Linked DNA regions of Homo sapiens: region 1 is linked to region 2. The links come from fine-mapping of genetic effects on gene expression. A gene starts in region 2. The other region holds a variant in brackets. All regions are shown on one strand. Distances are between the middles of the regions.

What was found. PIP is the estimated chance that this variant, and not a neighbour inherited with it, causes the effect.
Region 1: its variant is the best candidate, but not a certain one, in a credible set for the expression of NOL4L in whole blood (TOPMed, PIP 0.64).

Annotation. Positions count from the first base shown.
Region 1 is chr20:32,458,908-32,463,286 of GRCh38, forward strand. All of the region lies in intron 5 of NOL4L (nucleolar protein 4 like), which reads right to left. Among named protein-coding and RNA genes, the nearest start is that of NOL4L-AS1, 100 kb to the right of the region's middle. RefSeq lists an enhancer at 1-426. The variant T/C (reference allele first, on the strand shown) is at 2,676.
Region 2 is chr20:32,583,646-32,588,024 of GRCh38, forward strand. NOL4L (nucleolar protein 4 like) reads right to left here and starts at 1,688. Exons shown (of 11, transcript NM_001256798.2): 1 at 925-1,688. The coding sequence starts at 1,245. It overlaps NOL4L-DT (NOL4L divergent transcript), which reads left to right and starts at 3,834. Exons shown (of 3, transcript NR_034152.1): 1 at 3,834-3,911. RefSeq lists silencers at 1-200, 311-360, 421-630, 661-860, 1,201-1,250 and 3 more and an enhancer at 2,261-2,340.

The sequences.
Region 1 (4,379 bases), 120 kb before region 2:
GAGACACGCTGCTCAGGGTGCTCCTGGAGCCTCTACCAGGTCAGATGCCCGGCACGGGGGCCCAGACTCTCCAGCTACCAAGACCTTTGCCTCGGGGCTGTGCCCCCGGCTGCCTGGCTGGGGATCGACAGGCACTAGTGCCGGGGCAGAACCTCCCCTAACTGCACTCAGATGCCACCCTGGTCTGGCCAGGGAAGTGGTTGGGCGGGTAAGACCCGTAAGGCACCAGGTGCTAGGACCTCGTATGGCCAAGTGTTCCAAGCTGTTAGAAGAAACTGGAAATCTGCACCATTATGTAAACAGATTTTAAAATATTGGCGACTCAGTTACATGGTTTACTTTTTTTTTTTTTTTTTAGGGTCTTGCTCTGTTGCCCAGGCTAGAGTACAGCGGTGCCATTAGGGCTCACTGCAACTGCTGCCTCCTGGGCTGAAGCGATCTCCCCAGCAGCGCACACCACGACGCTTGGCTAATTTTTTTTTTTTTTTTTTTTGAGATGGAGTTTCACTCTTCCTGCCCAGGCTGGAGTGCAATGGGGCGATCTTGGCTTACTGCAACCTCCACCTCCCAGGTTCAAGCGATTCTCCTGCCTCAGCCTCCCAAGTTGCTGGGATTACAGGCGCCCGCCACCATATTCAGCTAATTTTGTGTATTTTTAGTGGAGACACGGTTTCACTATGTTGGCCAGGCTGGTCTCGAATTCATGACCTCAGGCGATCCGCCCGCCTCAGCCTCCCAAAGTGCTGGGATTACAGGCATGGGCCACCGTGCCCAGCCTCGGCTAATTTTTAAAGTTTTCTTTTTTTGTAGAGAACAGGTCTCGCTATATTGCCCAGGCTGGTCTCAAACTCCCAAGGCTCAAACCATCCTCCCACTTTGGCCTCTCAAAGTGCTGGGATGACAGACGTGAGCCACTGCGCCCAACCCATTATTTATATTTTTAAAAACTTCGACAAGTAAATGGGTACACAAATGTGGTCTATTCATACGATGGAATAGTATCCAGCCATGAAAATGAATGAAGTTTGGATAAGCGCTGCAATGTGGATGATAAAAACACGAGGCTGTGGGAAACAGGCCAGACGGACAAGGATACTCAGTGATTCCACTTCTACGCAGCATCTGGAACAGGCAAATTCACAGAGACAGAAGGTACAGTGAGGCTCCACGGGCTGGGAATGGGCAGTTAGTACTTAAAGGGTGCAGAGTTTCTGTTGGGGGATGAACAAGCTGTGGAAATAACAGTGCTTCTGGAGTGTACACTTAAAAATGGCAAATTTTATGTCACACATTTTACCACACACACAGAACCCAGACCAAAAACAGCCCCTTTGCCCTAGTTTATAGGCTCTATCTGCCATTATCTCATTTTCTCATGCCGCACACACAGAGCCTACTCAGAGGGACAACATGGATCGCGAAAGCCTGCCTTCCCCAGTGACACCAAGGTCTCGCCTACCCCCAGCTCCGCTCAGGCAGCCCCGGCATGCCAGCCCCCACCCCACACAGCTGCCCCCGCGCCACATGCTCTGGGGGCTGCCTGCAACCTGAGGCCCATGTTTTGCCGACTGGGGAGGCCACAGGTTTGAGCCGCGGAGTGGCTGGAAGAGGCTACTCCACCTTCTGGAGCCTCCGTTTCCTTTCAGAGTGGGTCCCACAGCCGTAAAACACGGTTCTAAGGTGAGGATGGTGCCCGAGATGGGGCAGGAGCTCAAAAGGAAACCCCAATTCCCTGCACCCCACATTTTCTCACATCATAACTCACCCACTGCCGACGCACGAGGCTCCCAGACTGCAACGGGGGCTTCTGGGGATCCCGGAGCCCAGCCTGTGACAGTCTGAGGTGGGCCCAGTGAGAGGGCCACTGTGGGGATGGGGGCAACTGCCACCCTCGGAGCTCATGCTCCAGCAGCGACAAATCAAACCTGAGGGCTCCAGAGGAGACGGGGCTCTGAAGGGGTGTCACCAGCTTTCTGGCCCCTGAGCCATGGTGTCTCCCCTACTCTCGGCGACTCCTGCTCGCCCTTCTGTGCTAACCCGAGCACCACCACCTCAGGGAAGCCCTCCCTACCTGCCCCGATCTCCATCGTGGCACCGGCTGTGGGCCACGGCTCTGCAGAAGCCATCCCAGGGACGGTGGGGCGAGGGCTGAAGCCTCATGAACCAACAGGGGCAGAGGTGCTGCTCGGGGTGGGGTTGGTCCAGCCTGTCCCTCGGCCCCACAAGCAGTGGATTTGATGCCGGCTGCAGCCGCAAGGGCTGAGTTTACTCCAACTGGAAGCCAGGTCCCTCCTTTGGGCCCACCAGGCCCTTCCAGCGAGCCCCTATGGCTCACCCACCCGCCCCAGCTGTGACCCAGCCTTGGTACTTGCTGTTCCCTCTTCCTGCTCCACTCTGTCCCGGGTGTCCCCTTGGCGCAGTCCCTCACTTCCAGGGCTCTGCGTAAAGGTCACCTTCTCGGTAAGCCCAGCTCCCACCCTGCTCTGGCACACTGACCCCTCTACCTTTCTTTTCTTTTTTTTTTTTTTTTTTTGAGACGGAGTCTTGCTCTGTTGCTCAGGATGGAGTACGGTGGCGTGATCTCGGCTCACTGCAAGCTCCGCCTCCCGGGTTCATGCCATTCTCCTGCCTCGGCTTCCCGAGTAGCTGGGACTACAGGCGCCCACCACCACGCC[T/C]GGCTAATTTTTTATGTTTTTAGTAGACATGGGGTTTCACCGTGTTAGCCAGGATGGTCTCGATCTCCTGACCTCGTGATCCACCCACCTCAGCCTCCCAAAGTGCTGGGATTATAGGTGTGAGCCACTGCGCCCAGCCCCCTCTAACACAGTAGTATTGCAAGGAGAGGATAAGTGCTTGGAAGAAATTACCTATTTCTTCCAAGCACTTATCCTCTCCTTGCAATACTACTGTGTTTATTGTGTCTCTGGCCTGTGCCCAGCCTTCACAGAAGCGGCCCCAGCCCTAGAGACCCAGAGTTGGTGCAGCTGTATTGGGTGGGCCTGGATGGCTCCTGCTGCCCCCTAGATCACACCCCTCCCTCTGGTGGGGGCAACTGAGTCTTCCTGGGCTCGCCGGGGTGAGTGCATGCCCCAGGCCTGGCCAGTCAACCCATCACAGCAACTGGTAATAGCGTGTGACCAAGCTGGGCCCGAGGACATCACGCGGGGACTCCTGCTGCGATGGCTGGGAAGGTGCTCTCTACCTGGGGTTGCTGGGCCCGTGGTGCAGGGAGGCCCACGCTGGGGAAAGCAGGGCTGATAGGGGGCACAGATGATCCCCTGAAATCCATCTGTGCCTGCCACCTAGGAAGGCCCTAGAGGTTTTGGTGAGGGAGCTAATAATTTCCTTATTGGTTAGGCCGGCTAGAGGCAGGCTCACACCAATGGCTTGGTCTCTGAGTAGTCCAGGGTCTTCTCCCTGGCAGAGGCCAAGGGATGGGACCCGGGGGCTGGGATCGCTCTGCATGGGGACCTCACCATGACGCCCAGCTCAGTCCTGAGGAGGCTGGTACCCACAGGAGGGGGTGGTGCCCACAGGAGGGCTCATGCCCACAGAAGGGGCTGGCTGCAACCCTCACACCCACCCCTCACTGCACCTGGCCAGGAGAACGCGCCTGTCACTGTTTGGGGAAAGAAGGAAAAGAGAGACTGGGGGCAGTTGGGTTTTGATCCGATTGGAATTCTTCCTCCCACAACCCTTAAAAAAAAAATGGATTTAGGCCAGGCGCAGTGGCTCACGCCTGTAATCCCAGCACTTTGGGAGGTAGAGGCAGGCAGATCATGAGGTCAAGAGATCGAGATCATCCTGGCCAACATGGTGAAACCCCATCACTACTAAACATACAAAAATTAGCTGGGCGTGGTGGTGCACGCCTGTAGTCCCAGCTACTCAGGAGGCTGAGGCAGGAGAATCGCTTGAACCCGGGAGGTGGAGGTTGCAGTGAGACAAGATCGCGCCATTGGACTTCAGCCTGGCGACAAAGCGAGACTCTGTCTTAAAAAAAAAAAAAAAAAAAACTGATTTAAAAGAGACATCGACAGGCGCACAAACCCTTGCTGTGATGGAATGCAGTGGGGCCCGGGCAGGGATGGTGCTGGTGTAGGGTCCTGCAGTCTGGGCGACCTTGGGCACTGCCACCTCCTGGGCCTCCTCTTATCTACAGTCCTGGGAGTTGCCGCTGACGCCCTCCTGGGCTCTGGCACTTTATGACTCTGTGAAGAAACCCAGCTGGCTCCATGGGCACCGAAGCCCCAGCACACAGGCCTCACGGGGTGCAGGCCTCCAGCTGGGAGGCTCAGTGGGAAGCTGGGAGTTCTGGATGGACCCTCCACACCTGGAGCTGGAAGTGGAACCTAAGGGTGCCCAGGTGACCTCTTGTC
Region 2 (4,379 bases):
GCCCCCCCCCCAGCCCCCACCCTCTGCAGAACAATGAGGTCCCGGCGGGGGAGCCGCGGGGCCCGCGCCGCACGCCCTCTCCAGGGCGCCCCGGGCCAGAGGGGACGCCCCCGCCCGGCCGCCCGCCTCCTCCCTTTAGGCGGCTGCGGTTCCCCGCCCCCTCCCCCACGCCACCCCGCCCGGACCGGGCCGGCCCGGGGGACGGGGGAGGGGAGGGGATGGATAGGTCAGGCCTCCCCCGTCCCATGAAGGGGGAACGAGGGGCCCGGGGGGCTGAGGGGGCGCCCCACCCACCCGCGGGAGGCTGCTCCTGCGCCAGGCTGCGGCTCCGGCCGCCCCTCCCCGGGCCAGCCCCGGGTGGGGTCGGGGCGACAGTGCCCGGGCGGGCCCCCTCCCCTGGCGCTGGGAGGCCCGGCGGACTCCCCGTCCCGCGGCTGCCCCTGCCTCCCTCCCCCCCCCCCACCCCGCGGCACCACCCTCCGCGCGCGCACACACACACACACACACACACACACACACACACACCGCCCAGCCGGCCCGGGGGCGGGAGCGCGAGGCGCCCGGGACAGGCAGCCCCGGGGCGGGCGGGGGGAGGCTCGGGCTCCAGAGCAGCCGCCTGCTGGCGGGGGGAGGGGACAAGAGGACGGAACATGCTGGGGTGAGCAGCCCGGGACAGCCTGCCCGGCACGGCCACGGCCCGGGCAGCGGCGCGGAGGGGGGCAGGGACGCCCCGAACCCGGAGCGCTGCCCAGGCGAGCCGGGAAGGGCCGGTGAGCAGGGACGCGTGCGCCTCCGGCGGGCCCGACACACGGACAACCTCAGGGACACACGTTCGGACACACATCCACACCCCCACCCCGCCCCCGCCCGCCTGCCCCAAGCCCCGCGGCGGGACCCGCCCGCGGCCGCCGCGCGCGCACTCACCGAGCCCGTCTTGACCGGCACATACACCACTTGGCCCATCTTGGGTTCCCGGCCGCTGCCCAGGCGGAAGCCCTTGGAGCGCACCCAGAACTGGAACTTGCCTTTCTCGCCGGCTGCGGGGCCGCTGCCCGCGCCAGTCCCGCCGCCGCCCTGCAGGACCTCGGCGATCCGCTGGTATTTGCTGCGTGTCACCGTCTTGGTTTTGGCCGAGTCGCCGTAGGTGCGCAAGCACCAGTCCCGGAACTGGCGGCCCAGCTCCGAGTCCCCGGGGCTGCGCTCGCGCTCCCAGCCCCCGCGCAGCAGCAGCGTCGGCTTCGGCATCCTCCCGCCGCGCCCGGCGCCCTCGGGGGCGGGCCGGCCGCCGGGCCGCCCGGTGCCGGGACTGGGCTGGGCTGGGCTGGACCGGGCCGGGACGCGCCGCGGCCGCGTCTGTCCCGCGGTGTGGCTCCGGCGAGGCTGCTGGATGGGCGCGGGCGGCGGCCGGACGCGCGGGGCTGCGGCGCGCTCTGTCCTGCTCGGGCGGCGGCGGCGGCGTTGGCGGCGGCGGCTCCGGCTCGCCTCCTGCTCCGCCTCCTCCTCCCCCCGGCCGGGATGCAGGAGCGATGGAGGCAGCTCCGGGCCCGGAGGTGCAGAGGGGGCGGGCCGCCCCGCGGGCGGCCGGGGGAGGCGGGAGGCGGGGAGCGGCCCCGAGCGCTGGGAGCGAGACCGAGCCTGGGCGCGGGCGGCAGCAGTGGCTGTCAGCTTGCGCGGCTCATCCTGCTCTTGCTCAGGCTCCCGCTGCCGCGGCTCTTCCTCCTCCTCCTCCTCCTCCTCCCGCGCCCGCCTCCACCACGCCGCGGGATCCCACCTGTTAGAGCGGCGCAGCCTTCGCCGCCGCCCGCCCCCCCCTTCCTCCTGCGCCCGCCCGCCGGGCCCAGCCCCCGCCCGGCCCGGCCCCTGGGGGCGCGGGGGCAGCCGCGCCCGCAGCCGCCGGGAGGGCAGGAACCACAGGCGCGCAGTGCCCAGCCCAGGAACCGCGTTCCGTCTGGCCGGGCCGGGCCCGGAGCTTCGCAGGCCCCGCTCCTCCCGGACGCGGCGGTCCCGCGGGGAGTAGGGCGCAGACCCCAGCCCAGACGCCGACCTCCCGGCCGCCCCGCCCCACTTAGCCAGGCCGGGAAGGTGTAGGGCAGGCTCCCCCTCCCTCGCTCCCGCAAGTGACTTGACCTCTCCCGTGAGCCGAAGCCAGAAGAGCAGTGTTCCCCTGGGGGAACCCCACATCGCCGCCCTTCGGGGCCCCCAAACTTCCTCTCCTTTTGCCTCACCCTGAATTCCCCGAAGTTTGGCCAGCTTTGCCTCTGCTTGCCTGCCCCACTGCTCTGGGACAGGCCCAGGCCCCCTGGGAAGTCGCCTGTGGCCTCAGCCCAATCCCACCTCCGCTTCAGAAAACTCTCAACACATCCACAAACTCATCCTGAGACACCCTGCCTTCCTGAGTGCGCCTTGACCTAGAATCTCTTGCTGAGTAAACTCAGGTAGCCCCACCGCCCCCCTCCTACCTGGGCAGATCTGACCTTGGGTAGAGCTAGCTGGTCCCCTCCCCCTTAATGAAATTACCAACATAAATAAAGGCACAGGCCAATTCCCCAGGATTTCTGTGCCCCTACCCCCCACTTCCTTAACAGGTCATGAGGAATTGCTGCACTTCTCTCCCAGCTGTCCCCGGGGGTCCACCCCATGTCCCCATGACACTCCTGCAGGCAAGTCACCATCCAAGTCCTGAGGCCCAGACTTTGTCTAGTGCAGGACCGTTTCCTGCGTAGGAACTACTGTCTACTCCCATCCCAAAGTCCCCCACCCCAGGACCTACTACGTGCCATGTCCTGGCAACTCTGAGAGGCAGAGGGAATGGCTCCATTTTACAGACGAAGACCTGGGGCTTGGAGAGGTGGCCTGACCTGCTCAAGGTCATGCAGGAAGGAGGGGTGGGTTTCAGCTCATGTGCATCTGGCTGCTGCTGCCATATCACACACAAACTCTTCCCCTTTCACCGCGCTCGGAGAGAGCCCCACGCTGTGTATACCTGGCTCACTTCCCCCAGTAGACAGGGAGCTCCAGATGCTCAGGGCCATATCTGACCCATCCTCATATGCACAGGCCCTAGCACAACACCTGGCACACAGTAGGTGCCAGTAAATGCTGAAAGAACCCTAGAGGTCTCCCAAGCCCCAACCTCTCTCTGCATTTCACATGGGAGATTATTTTTAGATAATTTACATTTCATGTTACTTTATATACACCAACAACTCCACAGTCATTTTTCCTCTTTATCTTCTCAAGAGCTCTTTTTGGATCTATGCTGGTATGCATGCCCGTTTTTAAGAGGTGACCACTCAGAGCGGGGAAGGCACTACCCAAAGGCCAGCCCCAGGGGCGCAGGGGCTTCTGTGATTAAGAAGCTCAGACCCTGACTTTTTCCATGTGTCCCTTGACGGTTATCCTTCCAGCACACTCTTCCTGAGAGCAGAGATGCTCTAGCCTGGCAATGGTAATGATAACTGTGGCAAATATGCCCTGTGCCTGGGTGGTGGGGTCCTTGTGTGAGCCCTGGTCTCTCTGTCCAGTTCCAGGACCCACTTCAATAACCACTAAGCCGGACCACCTCTCCACCCAGGCTGGGTCTTTGCCTGCCTTTCAGAAGCTAAAAACCTGGTTGTCAATCTTGGGCTGAGTTCTGGCACAGCAGAATGTATAGTATAATGAAAAGAACATGGGCTTCGGGTGGAGTCAGATTTGGAAGTGAATCCTGATGATTATTTGGCGTGGCATTCTTCATGCTCACAGGTCCCACTTGGCTACTTCACAATGGAATGAAGCCATCATTCCACCCTTTGCTGGGTAACCTCAGGCAGGTCACTGAGCCCCTACTTCATCATCTGTATAGCGGGACAGGATGTCACAGATGTAGAGATTCAACAGGATGAGAGTGCCTGAGCTGTGACGGGTGCCCAGTAAGTGCCATTTTCTCCCTCATGGGGCCTCGAAGTATTCAAGGAGGAAGACAGGCATTGTTGGCACTTTTTGTGCTTCATTCATTCAACAAACATTTGTTTAGCAGCCATTGTGCAGCAGGGGCTTGGGATATGGTCATGGGATCCCCAAGGTCCCTGCCCTACGGGAGTGCACCAATGGGTATGGAAGATGGCTATTGAACAAACCAGCTATTGATCACAACAGCCCGGGGAATGGGCCACGAAGGAAAGAGAGAGCTGTGATAGCAAATAATGCAAAGAAGGGGCTGCTTTTCTTAGGGGGATCAGGGAAGGCCCCTCTAAGGAGGTAGCATCTGAGCAGTGACTTAAATGACAGGTGCCAAGGCATGCTGTTCCTGCATTCCAGGATGAGGGAAGAGCAAGGGCAAAAGCCCCAAGGTGGAAGGAGATTGGCATTTTCTAGAAGCTGGAAGGTGTCCAGTGTGG